Linked DNA regions of Homo sapiens. Changing the gene in region 1 together with any one later gene gives a genetic interaction. Each region holds a gene or a part of one and is shown on either strand. Other genes may lie near its edges.

Region 1 (4,096 bases):
CAGCTTTTGTGGAGGAAATTGATGTTTTACTTTGTTCATGAAATCTGATCAGGTGTCAGTTGAACATTCAGGTAGAGATGTGTGATAGGTTGTCTAGTGTACAAAGCTGGAGACTAGGAACAAGATCTAGGTTGAGAGTATAGTTGTAGGAGTTACCAGTTTATAAATGGTAATTCAAACTGTAGAGTGTATGAAATGAGCTAAAGGGGAGAGTGTAGATTCAGAAGAGAAGAAAATACTGAAATCCCGAAGAAAACCCATGTTTAAGGGAGAATGAAGGGAGAAGAGGAGAAGATTGAAGAGTAACCTGTGAGATTAGAGAAAAACTAGAAAAGCATGCACTCATGGAAGCCAAGCATATCAAGTAGGATGAGGACAGTAAAGAGTGTTCACAGGATTTAACAACAAATAAGTCATTGGTGATCTTGACAAAACACTTTCTTCCCCCGCCCCAAGACCGATTGTTGCTCTGCTGCCCAGGCTGGAGTGCAGTGGCATGGTCTGGACTCATTGCAACCTCCGCCTCCCAGGTTTAAGCTATTCTCCTGCCTCAGCCTCCAGAGTAGCTGGAATTACAGGGCATGCACCACCACGCCCCGCTAATTTTTTTTTTTTTTAAATAGAGACGGGGTTTCACCATGTTGGCCAGGCTGGTCTCGAACTCCTGATCTTGTGATCCGCCCGCCTCAGCCTCCCAAAGTGCTGGGATTACAGGCGTGAACCACCACACCCAGCCGACAAAAACACTTTCAATGGATTAGTGGATGAGGCGGTCAGATGATAGCAGGTTGAGGAGCTGATTGGCAACAGTGCCTATAGTCAATTATTTTAAGAAGCTTTGCTGTTAAAGGGTTAGGTGAGAATGTGGGAGATTTTTGAGGGAGCTTATTTAATGCTTATGGAAAGGAGCTTGGAAAGAATAGGTTGTAGATACAGAAACCAGGGCAGTTAGTTGATGGAACTCAATTGTTAGGGATATTGGGATTCCAGATGGAAGGTAATCCAGATGGAATACCTTTAGCCGTGAAGGAGTTGTGACAGAAGGAAATGAAGTAAACAAAGGTGTAGGTGCAGCTGATTTGTCATTTTGGGGGCCAAGAAATGAAATGCTTTCCAATTTAATTTTTCTTCTCATTGAAGGCAAAAGTAGTTATCTACTGAAAGTGAGAAGGGGTGGTAAAGTAGTATTTTTGCTAAGTGGAAAGGGTTGAAAATCATTACTGTGAAGAGTAGGAGAGAGAATGGCCTTGAAGAATAAAGAAAGATTGCTGATTAAAAACAGATGTTTAAGGTGGTGACAACATACCAGTGGTGCCTTCTGCATAGCTGTGTAATTTGGGGTATTCACTCAGGCACCTCACTTTCAGCTGAGATTGGAATCCTGAGGGTTGGTATAGAGAAGGTGACTAACAGTTGGTTTATTCAAGGTTGCTGTTTGCTCACTAGACATGACAGAAGAAATATGGGACAAGTGTGTTGAAGTTGGCAAGAAAATGGCCGAAGAGATTAACCATGAAGTCTAGACCAGGAGTTGGCAGACTATAGCCTATAGGCCAAATCTGGCCCACCACCTGTGTTGGTTGTTTTTGGTGATTTTGGTTTTTTTTTCCCCCTTACATTTTAGATGTTTAAATACCTACATAATATCCATAATATGTCTCTTAGCCCACATAACCTATTAATAAAAATACTTACTATTTGACACTTCAGGAAAAAGTTTGCTGACCCCTTATCTAGACTAAAATAGGATTATAATAAAATGGGATGGGACTAACAGGCAGAGAATAGACGGGTCAAGGGCCTTAAAGTCTCGGTAAGATCCAAATATTAGGTATATTGGAAGCAACTGAGCGAGAGACCTGGGAAGGATAGAGGTTGTGGTGAGATAGGATTGTGAGTTGAAGACTTCAGATCTGGGGCAGCTGTGAGTGACCCCAGGTCTAGCTGTGGCCACAGTAGTGGGTAGCTGGAGCAGAGATGGGCCTGTCCGTGGAGTTAAGGGCAAGGAACTAACAGCCTGAGTGGAGACAGTCAAGTTGCCCAGGGGCTGGAGGAAGGGAAGGCTGATGGCCGGCCATTCACATTTCCAATTTGGGATAGGAGAGTTAATATAAATAACAATCAAATATATTCAATCCTTAAACGTGAGGGAAACCTGACTGGAAGGCTGATCATTAATTTTTTTTTTTAAGACCTGGAGCCACAGTGTGGAAGGGGTTGCTAGTGAATAGGGAGGCTTGTGCGTGTTAGGTAGCATTAGTAAATGGTACCAACCACGTAAAGCAGAGCCACCAGCACTTGGGACATTGAACCAAAACCAATCTTCGACGCTTCCAGCTGCCTTACTGGCGATTCATTTAGAAGAACGTGGCTTTCCTTTGTTACTGTAGTTTTTGAAGGCAGAACTAGCATGAGTTTGTGGATACAGACTTCAGCCTTCCTTCAGTGTTCCATGCACATAATCAGAATGACCTTCCTTCATCGCCGCAGGTTATTCTTACAGCTGGATGGCAGGGTCGTTGAAGAACTTCCTCATGAGTGACCTTCAAGTCCTTTCTAATCCAGATTCTGTGATAATACAAGTATGATGCAATTTTCACTAAAAGCTAAAAAAAAAAGCCCATCTAATCAGAGATGATCTTCACCTCTAATTTCTTGTTTATTGTCAAGTAATACCTCTGTTGCAGGCACTTTATAGGGCTACAAAAATGAGTGGTCCCCGTTGATATTGTGCTGTTATCCGTATCTTCTTTAGCCATTATTTCTTCATATGTGAGAAAGTAGTAGCCTCAGTTTTACTTTAAAAAAAAATTTTTTTTTTAAATTTAGAGTCTTGCTATGTTGCTCAGACTGATCTCGAACTCCTGAGCTCAAGTGATCCTCCTTCTCAGCTTCCTGAGTAGCTGGGACTATAATAGGCTTTGTGCCACCATGCCCAGCTTACTTTTTTCTATTTCTGCTTTATTTTATCCTCATGTCTGGACCATAGATAGATCATTGTTATCCACCAGCAAGAATGTGTCATGGCATAAAACAGTCAAGAAATCTAAGTGAAACCTTGACTGGGCTGTCTTTGGGCTTGTGCGGTAATGCCTCACATGCAGTGAACTCTCAACAAATGGCTTTTAAATTGAATTGGAATCTTCCATTTCTATATTAGCACATTTTGTACCTTTAGGAAAAACTTGATTTTAATGTGTTGTTTTCGTATGTGTTTGCTTGTTTCTTGAGTAGCTGATGGATTTACAACTGAGTGACAGTAACTTTCGTCGACACATCCTGTTGCAGTATCTCATTTTATTCCAATATCTCAAGGGGCAGGTCAAATTCAAAAGGTAAGATAATATGGGTAGTAAACAATTTGTAAACAGTAGCCAAGAAAAAAAAGGACTTGCTTACGATTTTTCTTATGTATGTGTCCATTTCATGTTAAGGCTGTATCCCTAAAACACATGTATTGCAGCTGATACATTGAAGGCTTTTCGATATTAGGATATTTAAGGAAAAGATGTTAAATATATCTGTCAGTGTGAGTTTTTCCTGCCCAACTCCAGGGCTTGCCAGGAGTTGTCGTCTTTATTAGCAGGTGGAGGTCTCTGCTCCAAAATTCCGTCATTCCCTTCTCACCTCCCTCAGACCTCCTCCAAAGCTGATTTGCAGACTAAGCCAGTAATACATATCTCACAAGGTGTGGAGCTCTGCAGGACATTCAAGCTAAAAGATGCAAAGAAAATTTTTAAGCAAAAAGGAGTTCATTTATTTGGGGTTTCACAAAACCTCATTAGGCTCTCTACTGTCTATCTAAATACTTCCATCCATTTCCTCCTATCCTGTCCATAACTGAAGGTGGAGCCCACTGTTACTTAACGGTATTTGTGTTAAGGACACTGAGCAATGCCGTATTAGTTGTATAATGACTTCACTACCTGCTGGGTTTGAATCCCAGGCTCGTCATTTGCTGGCTGCAGTGCAGCTCTTTCAGACTTGTAATTTTAAGGTAGTAGCACATGGTAAACACTCAAAAAATGTTATTTCTTATCCTTCTATCTATTTTGGAGGTTTGGTATAGCATAGTAGGAAGATGAGGGACTTTGAA
Region 2 (4,096 bases), on another chromosome or scaffold:
GAGGCTGGCCGGGGCCTGGGCCGCATGCGCCGTGGGCTCCTGTATGGTAGGTCCAGTTGTCTGCCTGCCCGAGGGACTGGGAAGCTGGGAAGGAGTCTGGGAGGGGAGTAGAAGGTGCTGGGGATGACCGCAGTAGCAGGTGTCTCTTGCCTCCCCAGACAGCGATGAGGAGGACGAGGAGCGCCCTGCCCGCAAGCGCCGCCAGGTGGAGCGGGCCACGGAGGACGGCGAGGAGGACGAGGAGATGATCGAGAGCATCGAGAACCTGGAGGATCTCAAAGGCCACTCTGTGCGCGAGTGGGTGAGCATGGCGGGCCCCCGGCTGGAGATCCACCACCGCTTCAAGAACTTCCTGCGCACTCACGTCGACAGCCACGGCCACAACGTCTTCAAGGAGCGCATCAGCGACATGTGCAAAGGTGTGGCTTCCCTACGCCCCCGCCTCAGCCCCTGTAGCGCCTCCCTAAATCCTCCCCAGAAAGTTGTCTGAGCCGAGTGAACACGTGAAGCACAGGGCATATGGCTGAGAGGTCTGTCAGAGAAACCAAAAGTTTTGAGTTTTGCATCAGGGCTCTCCTGCTGGCTATGCAGTGACCACATCTGGGCCACCAAAGCGTTTTTTGACAAGCTTGAAAATGGACAGATTTTATATAAAAATCTGGATTACTACTTTGATCTTTGTAATAGGAATTGACTCTTTTTTTTTTTTTTTTTTTTTTTGAGACGGAGTTTTGTTCTTGTTTCCCAGGCTGGAGTGCAATGGCACGGTCTCGGCTCACTGCAACCTCCGCCTCCTGGGTTCAAGCGTTTCTCATGCCTCAGCCTCCCGAGTAGCTGGAATTACAGGCATGCACCACCATGCCTGACTAATTTTTTTTTTTTAGTAGAGAAGGGGTTTCTCCATGTTGGTCAGACTGGTCTCAAACTCCCGACCTCAGGTGATTTGCCCGCCTTGGCCTCCCAGAGTGTTGAGATAACAGGCGTGAGCCACCGTCCCCAGCCAGGAATTGACTTTTAAAAGGGACATGTAGATCTTGATTCCTGCAATTCCTTCCACTGCTTTTTGTCCTGTGTTTGTCAGTTTCTTCCTGGCTCTTGTAAGGCGTTTCATGTTTGTAGCTGTGTAGGCACTCTGCTCATATTTAATTTAACCCCCCAGCAACTTTGTACACTGTGTGACATGCCCATTTTACGGAGTAGGAAGTTGAAGCTCAGGCTATGTCACAGCTGAAGTGTGGTAGACCTAGAAGTGAAAGCTGGGCTTTCTAGGTCAAAATCAATGGTCGGGGTGGGTAGGCCTTGCTTCTCACACAGGCATTGTTGCAGCCCAGCCCAGGCCTCATGCTTAGTTAACTCTCTTCCCACTGTGCCCCCTTCTAGAGAACCGTGAGAGCCTGGTGGTGAACTATGAGGACTTGGCAGCCAGGGAGCACGTGCTGGCCTACTTCCTGCCTGAGGCACCGGCGGAGCTGCTGCAGATCTTTGATGAGGCTGCCCTGGAGGTGGTACTGGCCATGTACCCCAAGTACGACCGCATCACCAACCACATCCATGTCCGCATCTCCCACCTGCCTCTGGTGGAGGAGCTGCGCTCGCTGAGGTGAGCTGAGGGCAGGTGAGGATGGCAGGTCCGAGCTCAGTGCTGGGTGACTCGGTCGTGATTCCTGAAGAGCGATTGTGGTGTGGGCGGGGAGGGTGCAGCCAGCAGCATCCTCATCGCAGGTGAGTTGTGGTTGCACAGGAGTGTGATGGGAGGGATCTTCCCGGGCTGGGGGCTGGGCCCAATTTCCAGGACAGTGTGTTGGGACACTCTCGTCTGCAGCCTGGCCTCACCCTGGCTCACGGCTTCTGATGCACCCTCTGCCTCCGCAGGCAGCTGCATCTGAACCAGCTGATCCGCACCAGTGGGGTGGTGACCAGCTGCACTGGCGTCCTGCCCCAGCTCAGCATGGTCAAGTACAACTGCAACAAGTGCAATTTCGTCCTGGGTCCTTTCTGCCAGTCCCAGAACCAGGAGGTGAAACCAGGCTCCTGTCCTGAGTGCCAGTCGGCCGGCCCCTTTGAGGTCAACATGGAGGAGGTGAGAGAGGACACAAGGTCTGCTGCCAGCTGTCCTTAGGGGTGCCCAGTATGCAGGACCTGACTGGCCTCTCAGGCTGTGGAAGACCAGTGTGGGCAGCCGCAAGAAGCAAGATAGAATTGTGTGTTGGCCACACCCTGGGGTGGACCCAGTCTGTCTGGCCAGTGGACTTAGCTTGGCCCACACGACGTTTTTAGGAATTCAAGTCAATATTTAAGTCAGGCGATTTGTTTAAACCATACAAGTTTATGGCTCCTCTTGAAACATGAGAAGATCTGGCAAACAGGGCCCACTTCTTGCCAGGTCACTCCTTCAGGATGTGTGCTTACCAGTCTCCATGGTGCCATCACTCACGTGGGGTGGCTGCAGTCCCATCGGGACTTCCCCTCAGCTTGTTTCTGGGACCTGTCTGGCTCACGTGGGGCCCCTGGACCATACCAACCTCCTGCACCATATTCAGGAGACGCTGCCAAAGCCTCTGATGTTAAGGTCTTAGGCACATGTAATGTGCCTTTGTACTTGAGCGTCCCTGTAAATGGGCTCATCGCCATCGCTGTGGTGGCGCCCAGGCCCCTTGACTGCCTTGCTGCTGTGGCTGTTGGCTGTCCTCTTCTCACCGCTCTGCAGTGCAGTTCTGCGAACTGTCCCAGCTGGAGCCACCTTGCCAGAAAATGCCTCAGAGGTTCCACCTGTGGCCACCTACAGCCAAAAGCTGACCCGTCTCGTCTCGGGTGGGGCAGCTGCAGGCCAGATGCCAGCTGAGCCACGTCTTTGCTCACTCTTCCCATGCCCTGTCTGTCTCCCTCAGGCCTTGCTTCTAGGGACCTGAGATAGTACCTGGTAGAGGGTTAACAGTTACAGCTATCATTCATGGAGTAACTTACCAGTGCCAGGTGGTGGGTGGTTTATTACCTGGTCCTTTTTCACAGCTCATGAGGCAGGAACTGTTACTGGCCCCACTTTGCCGAGTGTTTAGAGAACTGGCTGAGGTCACCCAACCAGAATGTGTGTTAGAGGTCCACAGCTCAGGCATCTTGATCTAGAGCATGTGCTTTTAACTGCAGTGCCATGTTGTGAGATAATGGGTACGAAATGACATGGCACAGTGCTGGCCTGTGATACTTGACAGTGACAGCCAAAACTTCCTGTAACTTAACATTTATCAGATGCTGGATTAGGTTGATGTATGTATGACTTGCTTTAATTCTTATTGTGAGGTTGCAGAGAAGGCACAGAGAGAGGAAGTCACTTGCCCAAGATCACACAGCTTAGACACAGAACCCAGGCAGCCTGGTTCCAGCATCGGTACTCAAGACAGCTTAGCTGTAAAGCATAGAGCAGGTGCTGAGTCTGGCCGTCAGAAGGCATCCCAGAGGGATGGTGTGGCAGGAGTGGGGACTGTCAACTGATGTGCTGAGTCGCCATGAACTCATTCCTTGCTGTCTTTGGCTCTCCATTTGCCACTCAGGAGTCGGAATCCTGCCTGTTCTCCCTCCTGTTCGGGGGTCAAGGTTAGGTGACATAGTAAGTCAGTGATTTGAGGCCTTCTGTGTGTCCCTCGCAGACCATCTATCAGAACTACCAGCGTATCCGAATCCAGGAGAGTCCAGGCAAAGTGGCGGCTGGCCGGCTGCCCCGCTCCAAGGACGCCATTCTCCTCGCAGATCTGGTGGACAGCTGCAAGCCAGGAGACGAGATAGTAAGTGGCCGGGGCAGGCTGGGAGGGAGCCAAGTTGCAGAGGGAACTGGCAGAAGCAGTTGTGGCTGGGCCGGTGGCGGTGTCTATGGTCGCAGGGGCACTCGGGCTAGGATCTGTTTTTGCATGGCTGAGGCAAAGAACTTTCTTCTGGTGGATGGGTTGTTGGAATGGTGGGTTTAGGAGGGGTTTTACTGAGTTACTTATCTTGGTGTCTGTAGTGTGGAGCACTTGCAATAGGAGAAACTGGAGGAAGGCAGCACGGAGGTGGGCACCCCTGGGTTAGGCTCTGACTTCTTGGCCCCTCCCTTTCCCCAGGA
Region 3 (3,747 bases), on another chromosome or scaffold:
CTCCACCCACAGGTGATGCTTCTGACAGATCACAAAGGAATTTAGAATTCTAGTTTAACAATATCACTCTTTACTCAAGTGGAAGGGAGTATATATTTTTTCCACCTCTGTAAGTAAAGTTCATTTTAGCAGTTGGTAGAACTGGTGTCCTACCAACTAGGCTAGGTTTTCTACCTAGCCATGCCTATTTATGTCTTTGCAATCAAGAAAGATTCTCCATCCCTGGTAACAAAGCATCGTCTTCCTAAAGTTCACTTCACTGTATGAAGAACTGTGAGGATCTAAATTCTACAGTATTTCCCTTTGTGAGTTTATTAAACTCTAATGCTAGGCACATACACGTCTTTGAAAACTGCCTCAAACTTTCTCCTTCCTGGGACTTCCTGTAAATGAATTTCATTCTCACTGTCCCAACAGCTCCAATCCTAGGAATTAATTGAAAAATAAACTACAAACGTGAGCAGAAAAGCCTTCACAATGAATCCTAGAGAAAACAGTTCAATTATCTGAAAGGAGTGTTCCTTCCTACACCCATGCCAGACTCTGATTTTCCCATGCTAGCAACTGTGACATTACAGAAACATCTGTTCCTGACACTGTTCAACTGTTTAAATAACCAAGGAGGAGAAAAAAAAGATTTATAATTAAATAGTATTTAGGGTCCCAATAGTCAGAGTCCAATAATCCAAAGGTCATCTATGCAAAATTAGGAATATGCATTTTTCTCCAAAGAGTATCTTTGGCTTTAATCTGATTCTCAAAAGGATCCTATGATCCAAGAAAGTTTAAGAACCATTGAAACAGTAATTTATTCCTGAGCTATTTGACTGCCATCAATCCATTTGTTATAAAACTGAAGGGAAAACACACATTTGAATCACTTCTTCTAAAGCTTTAGTAAGTGATCTGTTCAAATAAGCAATTACATGAAAGAATAAAACCAAATTTCCAACCTAAAATTCTGACAGGAGAGTCAACATGATGGTTAAGGCCTATTTCATATTCAAACTTCAGTCTATGAAAGAGTAGAGAGAGAAGGGTCTCCTCTTTCAAATTAAATATTATAAAAACAATTAAAAAAAGGTATCAATAGTCCTAAAATGCAGCAACTCCATCTCAAACAAGCATGACACACTTCTGATCAGATGAAGTATTTACAAAGGTAGCTTGTGTTTTAAGCATGTAACACTTTGGGTGACGACAGAAGTTTCTCCTCTTTGGGTGAAACCTGCCTAAGGCTGTAGAGATGACCAACACTCTGCAGGTGTTAGTTCTGAATAACTACTGTGGGCTTTTCATGATCTTCCCTCCAGTAGGAGACCACAATTGAGTCTAAAGTCAGATCCACCGTTGTCTATGGGTAGGCAGGGTTGATTCAAACTTAATCCTTGTTTGTATTCTTTTGGATTACTGCAAAAACATCTAGGGACCAGAGTGAATGTCTGGTGAGGCATAACTGCAGAGGTGAAAGATGTCAAACATTTTCAATTTGGCAGTTTCTTCAAGGTGTGTGAAAATTCACATACAGAAGGTCTGGCAGTGTCTTCTGTAAGTTTTCGTGTTGCCGTATTTCTGAAGGAGCTCTTGGGCCTGCTGCTGCATTTCCTGGGCCAGACAGCCAGGAAAGTGGGACCTGATGAGAAGCAGGACGAGGCAGCACTCCAGCACATCTGGGAAGGGCCAGGCCTGAAAGACGATGACATGAGGATGAATAAGGAAGCATTTGCAGAAGAGCCACAAACACCTGCACAGAAGGCACCAGTCACTCAGGTTCATCTATAGACACTTCTTGGACACAGCTGAGCCAGCTGTCTCCTAAGGCAATGTCCTGTCTTTCTCTTCAACAGTTACTCCAAGGAGAAATGACACTCAAAACTAGGATGGCTACTGCGATGTCCTTCTCAATGGCACAATCTCTTTCTACAGCCCTATGCAAATCCACCCTTAAAAATGGTGCTTCTATTAATATTTGGGCCCACAGCCAAAAAGACCTGTCCATCTGTAAGCTATCTAATACATGGCACCAATTTAAATTTTACTTCTTACCTATTAAATCTATTTGGTTTCTCTGAAGATTGAGGTATAAAATTACTTGTGTGATCGATAATTCTAGTCTCACAAAACATTCTAGCTAACCAAAGTAATTGGATTCTAAATTCTTTTTTTTTGTTTTGTTTTTTTTTTGAGACAGAGTCTCGCTCTGTTGCCCAGGCTGGAGTGCAGTGGCGTGATCTTGGCTCACTGCAAGCTCCGCCTCCTGAGTTCACGCCATTCTCCTGCCTCCATGCTATTCTCCTGCCTCAGCCTCCCGAGTAACTGGGACTACAGGCACCTGCCCCCACGCCCGGCTAATATTTTGTATTTTTAGTAGAGACGGGGTTTCACCATGTTAGCCAGGATGGTCTTGATCTCCTGACCTCATGATCCGCCAGCCTCAGCCTCCCAAAGCGCTGGGATTACAGGCGTGAGCCACCACGCCCAGCCTGGATTCTAAATTCTTAAGCACATATGAATGGGTAGAGATTTTAGAAACTGAACAGAGAGGTAGCTGACCTTTATAAGAATGTGGTATAGTCAAGTGATAACACAAAAAGTGATGCTTTACCAAATGAACTGCTTTAACTCTTACCTTAATGCTCTCAGGAAATTTCGCCATTCTCTGATTTGCCTCGGTAAGCCTTTTGGTTAACTCAGGCAGAGAAAGTGGCTCATTTTTTTCTTCTTTACTAGTGAAAAAAATAAAAGGTGTAAATTGTATGTCTTGCCCTGGGTAACATTTTTCTCCCATTGTTATTTTACTGTGGTAAAATGTATATAACATAAAGCTTACCATCTTAGCCATTTAAAAATACATAGTTCAGTGATTTTAAATAAATTCATAATGTGGTGAAAAACATCCCCACCACCCATTTCCAAAAACTCTTGTCATTTTGTAAAACTGAAATCTTATACCCATTAAACATTAACTTCTCATTCTGCTTCCCTTAGCCCCTGTCAACATTATTCTACTTTCTGTCTCTATAAATTTAACTATTTTGAGTAGTTCATATAAGTGGAGTCATATAGTATATGTCTTTTTGTGACTGGCTTATTTCACTCAGCATGATGTCCTCCCTTCGTAAGGCTGAATGACATTCCATTGTATGGATATGGCACATTTTGCTTATCCATTCATCTGTCAGTGGATACTTAGGTTGCTCCCGTGTTTTGGGTATTATGAATAATGCTGCCATGAACACAGGTGTGCACATATTTCAGACCCTGCTTTCAATTCTTTTGGGTGTATACCCAGATGTGGAAGTGCTGGATCCTATGGTCATTCTATTTTACATTTCTGGAGGAAGTGCTGCTGTACTGTTTTCCACAGTGGCTGCATCATTTTACATTCCCACCAATAGGCACAAGGGTTCCAATGTCTCTGCATCCTCCTCAACACTTGTTCTGTTTCTCTGATAGTAGCCTAATGGCTATGAAGTGCTGCTTCACTGTAGTTTTGATTTGCATTTCCCCAATGATGAGATGTTGAGCATCATTTCCTGTGCTTACTGGCTTTTTAGAGAAATGTCTATTCAAGTCCTTTGCCCATCCTTGAATTGGATTATCTTTTGTTATGCCTGGGTAGCTTTTACCTTTTATTTTTAATATTTTTTAAAAATTTAAACTTTTGCCTATGACACAGCCCTCAGGAGGCCCTGAGAGCATATGCCCCTGCCTGGGTTACTTTTATCTCATTTTATAAATAAAATT
Region 4 (3,995 bases), on another chromosome or scaffold:
AACAGAGTGAGACTCTGTCTCAAAAAAAAAAAAAGACGTGTCTGTTGTCTCGTACGCTGAGTATAATCGGGGAAGAAATGGTACACTAATAAGCCTTCAGGTATTATGTACTAAGCAATGATGTGCCCAGGGATAAAAAGACAAAGCATGGTATCTGTTTTCAAGGAGCTTTCAGTTTCAAGTAGGAGCACATGTGTAATCAAATGAATGCCATTCTGCATATCAGGAGAGAGATTGCTGATTGGCATAAGAAAGTTCTCCAGAATCGCTTGAACCCGGGAGGCGGAGGTTGCAGTGAGCCGAGATCGCACCACTGCACTCCAGTCTGGCGACAGAGCGAGACTCACCTCAAAAAAGACAAGAAAAGAAAGTTCTCAGAGAGGCAGACACAGTGGCTAATCTCAGCATTTAAAAGAGCTGATTGCTTGAGTCCAGGAGTTCAAGACTAGCTCGGGCAACATGGCAAAACCCCATGTCTACAAAAAATACAAAAATTAGCCAGTTCTGGTGGCGTGCACCTGTAGTTCCAGCTACTTAGGAGGCTGCAATGAGCCTAGATTGTGCCATTGCACTCCAGCCTAGGCATTGGAGTGAGACCCTGTTTTGTTTTGTTTTTTCCTGAGACAGTGTCTTGATGTGTTGCCAGGCTGGAGTGCAGTGGCAAGATCTCTGCTCACTGCAACCTCTGCCTCCCGGGTTCAAGCGATTTTCCTGCCTCAGCCTCCCGAGTAGCTGGGACAACAGGCGTGTGCCACCACGCCCAGCTAATTTTTGTATTTTTAGTAGAGACAGGGTTTCAGCATGTTGGCCAGGATGGTCTCGATCTCTTGACCTCATGTTCTGCCCGCCTCGGACTCCCAAAGTGCTGAGATAACAGGCGTGAGCCACTGTGCCCATCCAAGACCCTGTCTTAAAAAAAAAAAAAAGTTCTCGAGAGGGAATTGGAGTAGGGACGGAACTCACAAATGGCTTTATGGAGAAGATGGCATTGGAATGAAGTTTTGAAGAATGCGACGGAGATTTTTTTGGTAGAAACAGAAGGGTATCTGAACAAAGGGATTAGGTTGGGCAAAGATGTGAGCCAGCAAAGCTTAGTATGTCTGGAAATAGCAGATAGCCCAGTTGAGCTGTAGGGAAACATTTGTGTTGGGTGATGGTGGGAGGTAGGTTGGAACGAGAAAGGTGGACGGGCTAGAGGTCAGTAGGTGGGTTCTTGGCACCAGATAAGAGAGTTTGGACTTTACGCTATCGTTAATGGGCAGCCACTGAAAGTTTGTGAGCAGAGTTTTGATAGGACCAAGGGAAATGGAAACAGCATTCATAAGATTATAAAACTGTCATATAATCATGAGGTGTTAAGGGTCTGGGCTGTGATGCTGGTTGTGGAAAATGAAAAGGGTAAAGATAAAGGAAACAACACCAAAGAATTTATTGGACTTAGTGACTTACTGTAGGGGTCAGCAAACCTTTTTTTCTCCCCCCAAACCAAAAACGGTTAATAAAACCCTTTTTTTTTTTTTTTTTTTGAGACAAAGTCTTACTCAGTTGCCCAGGCTGGAGTGCAGTGGCGACATTTCCTGGCTCACTGCACCCTCTGCCTCCTGGCTTCAACCGATTCTCCTGCCTCAGCCTCCTAAGTAGGTGGGATTACAGGCATGTACCACCATGCCTGACTAATTTTTGTATTTTTAGTAGAGATGGGGTTTTGCCATATTGGCCAGGCTGGTCTCAAATTCTGGACCTCAGGTGATCTGCCCGCCTTGTCCTCCCAAAGTGCTGGGATTACAAGTGTGAGCCACTGCACCCAACCACACCTTTTCTATTAAAGGGCCAGATAGTCCCTTTGTGGGACATGTAGTCTCTGTTGCATATACTCAACTCCATCTTTGTTGTGTGAAAGCAGCCACAGGGGATACATAAATGAATAAGTTAGGATGTGTTTCAGCGTTTCATCTATGGATATTACAATTTGAATTTTGTATAATTCTCATGAAGTGGCATGAAATAGTCTTGTTTTGACTTTTTGCCAACCATTTTAAAATGTAAAACCCATTCTTAGCTCTTGAGCCATATAAAAACAGGTGGTGGGGCAGATCTGGCCCACAGGCTGTAGCTTGCCAACTCCTGACTTACTGGATTTGAGGTACAGAATGAGTGAGACTGAAAATAACATTTTGAGCCTGAGTCACTGAGAAAGTTAAATTGTCATTTAAGAAGAGAGGGAGCAGTTTGTAGAAAAGAATGATATCGAATTTTAGACAAGTCTTTTGGTATTTCTCACAAATCAGCACCCCTCCCACTACCGACCCCCATCACCATACACTAGTGGGATCAGAACCAGTGCTGAAGGTACATGTTTGAGAAGCATCAAATCATCTGCATAGAACTGCTGGCTGACACTAGGAGAGGAGAAGGGTATGAGAAATCTTCTCTTATGTTGAGTCATATGTTTTATGAATATATTTTTTAAGTAATTAAAATCTTTTCATAAATTAAGAACCAACATTCTGCCTCTTGGGATATATTTCAAAGAATCTTTAATACAGCTCCATCAGATGACATGTGCATGAGTGTTTTTGCAGTATGATTTTTGGTGGTGGGGGCCTAGAGGCAACATAAATGTTCAGCATTAGGAGAATGCATAGGTGAAACATGTATTCATATCATGGGGCATTAAACAACAGAAGCAACAAAATTCATGTGCATACAACATAAGAGTACCTTTTAAAAGGTATGTAGTGGGAGAAGAAAAAGCATTTTATAGATACAGAAAACATCATTCTGTAACTTAGAAACATACATAGGAAACAGAAACAGTTTTTAAAAACCTACACAAAAAGCCACAGTATTACTACATTAGAAAAGTTGCTTTTCAGAGGAATGGGAGTGAGATGGCGATAAGAGGAAATAAAAAACAAAAATATTTTTAAATAGCAAAATAACCCCTTTTTTTTTGAGACAGTTTCCCTCTGTCACTCAGGCTGGAGTGTAGTGGCGCGATCCTGGCTCACTGCAACCTTTGCCTCCCGGGTTCAAGCATTCTTCTGCCTCAACCTCTTGAGTAGCTGCAGTTACAGGTGCGCACTACCATACCTGGCTAATTTTTGTGTTTTTAGTAGAGACGGGGTTTTGTCATGTTGGCCAGGCTGGTCTTGAACTCCTGACCTCAAGTAATCTGCCCGCCTCAGCCTCCCAAAGTGCTGGGATTACAGGTGTGAGCCACCGTGCCCAGCCAAAACATGTTTTTGAAGAGTAGTTGATAAAGAGTAGATGATAAAAAGGAAGATGCTTAACTGTGTAACTAAATGAAAACATAATATGGGTATGTATATAGTATGATCTCAGTTATGTAAAAAACTATGCACAAAAAAACCTAAAAAGAAAAATATCAGGATGTATTTCTAGAAGGTGGGATTATCTGTTGTTAAAAATTTTTGATATTCTATTTTCTAAATTGAGTTTTTATCGCTTTTGTATAAGAGAACCTAAAGGGTAAAGAGTTTTAAAAATGAGGACATTGAAAAAGGGAAAGAAAAAAGTTACAAGGCAAAGTTAAACTACTTGGGTGTGGGAATGAGCTGTCCATGAAGTTCTTCATAGGTTCTTATTACCATCTGAAACAATGAGAGGTGAGCTGAGAGGCCAGTCAGAAGTGAGTAAAGTGAGTTATCAGTCGAACTCCCGTTTCCTCTTATCCCTTGTCCAGCTCTTAGAACAAGCTCTGGTGATTGAGGAACAGCTGCGCCGGGCTGCTTACTTGAACATGTCAGAAGACCCTTCTCACCCTTCCATGGCCCTCAACACCCGCTTTGCTGAGGTGGAGTGTTTGGCGGAAAGTCATCAGCACCTGTCCAAGGAGTCAATGGCAGGAAACAAGCCAGCCAATGCAGTCCTGCACAAAGGTAGCCAGTGGCTCCCCTGCCTCCTGCCGATTCGGCCTCCCTGATCTGACTGCATCCTAATGTACATATATTTGTTTTCAAACTTTCAGAGCT
Region 5 (4,096 bases), on another chromosome or scaffold:
TTATATATGTCCTATATATACATATATATAGTGCAAAGGTAGCTCAGAGAATAAAGTTATTGATTCCGTGTGGTGGAGTCAAGGGACTTTACAATAGAGGTAATGGGGATGATGGAGGAGGAGTGGAAAGGGACAGCATATGCAAAGGTTAGCTGAGTGAGAGTATGTGGTGCGTTCAGGAGATGACATATTACCCAGTAAGTTAGTGTATGAGGCAGGAAGTGAGACTGCTACCAGATTTTGCTACACCTTGAATTTCAACTGGCTAGAGTGATTTAAATTTTATCAAATACAGTGATGAGAAACCACGGAATGATTCACCCCCTAATTTTTTTTGAAGGATTTATGTACCAAAATAATGACAGTTACAGTATTGAAAGATCATAGTGCAGCAGTTGGAAGGGTGGATTGAAGAGGCAAAGAGGTGGAGGCACAATATCTGTAGGGAATTGTAGTTTCCCGGTTGAGATAAGAGCTCGATTGAAGGCAGTGGCAATGGTATTAAAAAGGAGGGGATTTGAGAAATACTTAGCAGAAATATTTGGCAGAACTTGAAAGATGGAGGTGTTCACAAAAACTCTCAGATTTTTGCCAGTGTGGACTGGTGGTCAGCAATGTGTTAGGCAATGCTGAGATCAGCAGTGCTTCAGATGTGTTGAATTTGAGATACCCATGAGGCATCAGATGCAATTATGTTGATGTACAGTGAAAAGTTCAGGATATGGATGTAGACACTGGTTAGAGCTTGAGAGAGAGAGAGATTTGAAATTGGAATTATCAGTATTTAGGTAGAAGTTGAAGCTATAGGAGTAGAATATATTACCCAGGAAAGGGTAAATTAGGGAAGGAGCTCCTAACATAGGGTTTGTGGCCTTCCCAAAGTTTCCATGGTAGAACTATATTTTATTATAATTGGCTTCTTTTATAAACATTTAAAAACATTCTAAGAAGGGATTCATAATTTCCTAAACTGTATTAGTTTGTAGGGCTGCCATAATAAAGTACCACAGTCTGTGTGGCTTAAACAACAGAAATTAGTTTTCTCACAATTCTAGAGGATAGAGGTAGATCTAAGTGTCAGCAGAGTTGGTTTCTTCTGAGGTCTGTCTCTGTGTGTAGATGGCCATCTCCTCCTCTGTCTTCACATGGCCGTCCCTCTGTACAAGTCCAAGTCTGAATTTTCTCTTTTTGTTGTTGTTGTTGTTGTTGTTGTTTTTGAGACTGAGACTTGCTCTGTCACCCAGGCTGGAGTGCAGTAGCACGATCTCAGCTCGTTGCAGCCTCCGCCTGCCGGGTTCAAGCAATTCTCCTGCCTCGGCCTCCAGAGTAGCTAGGACTACAGGTGCATACGGCCACGCCCGGCTAATTTTTTGTATTTTGGGTAGAGTTGGGGTTTCACCATGTTGGCCAGGATGGTCTTGATCTCCTGACCTCGTAATCTGCCCGCCTCTGCCTCCCAAAGTGTTGGGCTTACAGGTGTGAGCCACCGCGCGCCCTGCCTGAATTTTCTCTTAAAAACATCACTCATACTGGATTAGGACCCAATCTAATGATTTCATTTTAACTTAATTACTTCTTCAAAGATTCTGGTTTCACCGGGCATGGTAGCTCACGTCTATAATCCTAGCACTTTGGGAGGGCAAGGCGAGTGGATCACCTGAGGTGTGGAGTTTGAGACCAGCCTGGCCAACATGGTGAAACCCCATGTCTACTAAAAATATAAAACCTAGCCGGGCTTGGTGGCCAGCAGATGTAATCCCAGCTACTCAGGAGGCTGAGGCAGAAGAATCACTTGAACCCCGGAGGTGGAGGTTGCAATGAGCTGAGATTGTGCCATTGCACCCCAGCCTGGGCGACAGGAGTGAAACTCTGTCTCAAAACATAAAAATAAATAAATAAATAAAGAATAAAGACTCTGGTTTCAAGTACAGTCACATTCTGAGGTACTAGGGGTTAGGATTTTGACATATGAATTTTAGGGCGACACAATTCAGTCCACAACACTGTCATAAGGGTCCATAACACAGAACAGGTTAAGGGCTCCTGGCGCAGGGCAAAAGATAAATCCTTGAGGAACAGAAGTTGAAATTTTTGGTTAACTATACAATTAATTCATTTAATTAGGATATCTCTTTACCCAGCATTCTGGTTAATAAAAGTATTAAATTTTACCAACTCATATTCATTGCTATACTTACGATTTGTACTCAAGTTTAGGTGCTGTGGTGAAAACAAATACAGTGTTCTCCTTTTAAGGACCCCCTAGTTTCTGACAAAATAATTTGGACCAGAGAATTTCACAGGGAAGGGTTAATTATCTTGAGAAATGTAACAAATACGTAAACTTTCTTTTATATTAGAAATTAAAATATGTCTCTGTTTTATTTGAATAAAAATGAGAGGCTGGGCGCGGTGGCTAACACCTATAATCCCAGCACTTTGAGAGGCCAAGGCGGGTGGATCACGAGGTCAGGAGTTTGAGACCAGCCTGGCCAATATGGTGAAACCCCATCTCTACTAAAAATACAAAAATTAGCTGGGCATGGTGGTGCGCGTCTGTAGTCCCAGCTGCTCAGGAGGCTGAGGCAGGAAAATCTGTTGAACCTGGGAGGTAGAGGTTGCAGTGAGCCGAGATCACGCCACTGCACTCCAGCCTGGGCAGCAATACAGCAAGACTCCGTGTCAAAAAAAAAAAAAAAAAAAGAGATCATTCTGCAAAGCTACTGTCTCTTAACTGATACTTGCAAAGTAATGGGTTTGATTTTAAAAATTTTAAGTTTTTGAAATATTTTAAACATATTAAAAATATGTAAGTTTGTATGTGATATTACTGTAATCACCTGTAAGTTTGTATGTAATACAATACTGCATTCACCAGTGAGATTAAATAGATGTCATATTTTGCCATATTAATACCTCAGATATTTTAAGAATAAAAATGTTATTGATACAGATTTCCTCTCTCTCCCTTCTTCAGTTCATGTAACCACTGAACTGAAGTTGGTATGTAACATTCCCAGACCCCATGCATATTTTCTTTTTTTTTTTTGAGACGTGTGTGTGTGTGTATATGTGTATATATGTATGTGTATACATATGGTTTTTTGATAACTAGCTTTTAAAACTAAGCATTCTTTTAGATTTATTGATGCTGACATATGTAGATCTAAAGTGTTCATTTGAACTGCTGTACAGGATTCCATTGTGTGAATATATTATTGCTTATCTATTTCCCTGCTGAGAGACCATTAGATTATTTCTGCCTTTTCCTATGGCAAGCAGTGTGTCAATTATAATAGCAGCTTACACTTAGCATGTGTATTTTCTAAGACTTCATATACATGAAAGCACTTAACATGTTTAATCATTAGAGTATCCTGTGAGATAAGAGCTATTATGTACATTTTACATATTAGGAAACTGAAGCAGAGAGGTTAATAAATTGCTCAGTTCTTGTAGCTGTTGAACATTCTTTTGCATGTCTCCTTGCAACCTGTATGAGAGAGTGTCTCCAGAATAAGTAAGTGTAATTCTATGTATGCACAATTTCAACTTTAATAGATATGACTAAATTGCCCATAGTGGTTGTCCCACTTTGGACAATAAATTATAGAATCACCCTAGTTGATGGTGGAGGGAGGTTGCTGGTATATTTATTAGCCTGGTTCATTCACCTCAGGGTAATCCATGGCTAACTGCATCCCCTCTACTAAAAGTCACAGCTCCTGTCAGGTAGCCCTCCCCATACAACTTTCTCTCCAGATTCTGATAACAGTTATTTCTTCTTGTTTCTTCAGTTTGAAGAATGGCAATGGATCCATTATTATTAGTTATCATTATAGTACTGGGGTACTGTACTGTCCCTTCTGGTTGTCCTGTATTTCACCTATATCTTTGCAAATAATTCCCTTTAATAAGTAAACTGAAATTACCCAGTTTTAGTGTACCATTTCTTAACTGATTGAACCTCTACTTAAATACGGTGTATGCCTTGTTATATTTTAATTAAATGATTCTTTAAGGTGTATTTGAAACTAGGTTCAAGTGAGTAATAATATGAATATAATTGGGCTGAGTGCAGTGGCTCATGCCTGCA

Evidence for each region.
Region 2: changes in THOC1 (region 1) and MCM2 together harm fitness less than expected from each alone (positive genetic interaction), as found in Homo sapiens cells (one large-scale study listed by BioGRID).
Region 3: changes in THOC1 (region 1) and GEMIN5 together harm fitness less than expected from each alone (positive genetic interaction), as found in Homo sapiens cells (one large-scale study listed by BioGRID).
Region 4: changes in THOC1 (region 1) and CHD4 together harm fitness less than expected from each alone (positive genetic interaction), as found in Homo sapiens cells (one large-scale study listed by BioGRID).
Region 5: changes in THOC1 (region 1) and ACTL6A together harm fitness less than expected from each alone (positive genetic interaction), as found in Homo sapiens cells (one large-scale study listed by BioGRID).

What each region holds. Positions count from the first base shown.
Region 1 is NC_000018.10:226,040-230,135, reverse strand, and holds part of THOC1 (THO complex subunit 1), read left to right. Parts: intron 1-3,234; coding exon 3,235-3,335; intron 3,336-4,096. UniProt on the Homo sapiens protein: Component of the THO subcomplex of the TREX complex which is thought to couple mRNA transcription, processing and nuclear export, and which specifically associates with spliced mRNA and not with unspliced pre-mRNA.
Region 2 is NC_000003.12:127,604,738-127,608,833, forward strand, and holds part of MCM2 (DNA replication licensing factor MCM2), read left to right. Parts: coding exon 1-46; intron 47-139; exon of another isoform or gene 140-158; coding exon 159-419; intron 420-1,380; coding exon 1,381-1,600; intron 1,601-1,872; coding exon 1,873-2,080; intron 2,081-3,644; coding exon 3,645-3,779; intron 3,780-4,094; coding exon 4,095-4,096. UniProt on the Homo sapiens protein: Acts as a component of the MCM2-7 complex (MCM complex) which is the replicative helicase essential for 'once per cell cycle' DNA replication initiation and elongation in eukaryotic cells.
Region 3 is NC_000005.10:154,886,692-154,890,438, forward strand, and holds the end of GEMIN5 (gem-associated protein 5), read right to left. Parts: intron 2,727-3,747; coding exon 2,630-2,726; intron 1,687-2,629; coding exon 1,519-1,686; 3' UTR 720-1,518; downstream 1-719. UniProt on the Homo sapiens protein: The SMN complex catalyzes the assembly of small nuclear ribonucleoproteins (snRNPs), the building blocks of the spliceosome, and thereby plays an important role in the splicing of cellular pre-mRNAs.
Region 4 is NC_000012.12:6,572,981-6,576,975, reverse strand, and holds part of CHD4 (chromodomain-helicase-DNA-binding protein 4), read left to right. Parts: intron 1-3,706; coding exon 3,707-3,902; coding exon of another isoform or gene 3,903-3,905; intron 3,906-3,995. UniProt on the Homo sapiens protein: ATP-dependent chromatin-remodeling factor that binds and distorts nucleosomal DNA. Acts as a component of the histone deacetylase NuRD complex which participates in the remodeling of chromatin.
Region 5 is NC_000003.12:179,565,491-179,569,586, forward strand, and holds part of ACTL6A (actin-like protein 6A), read left to right. Parts: intron 1-4,096.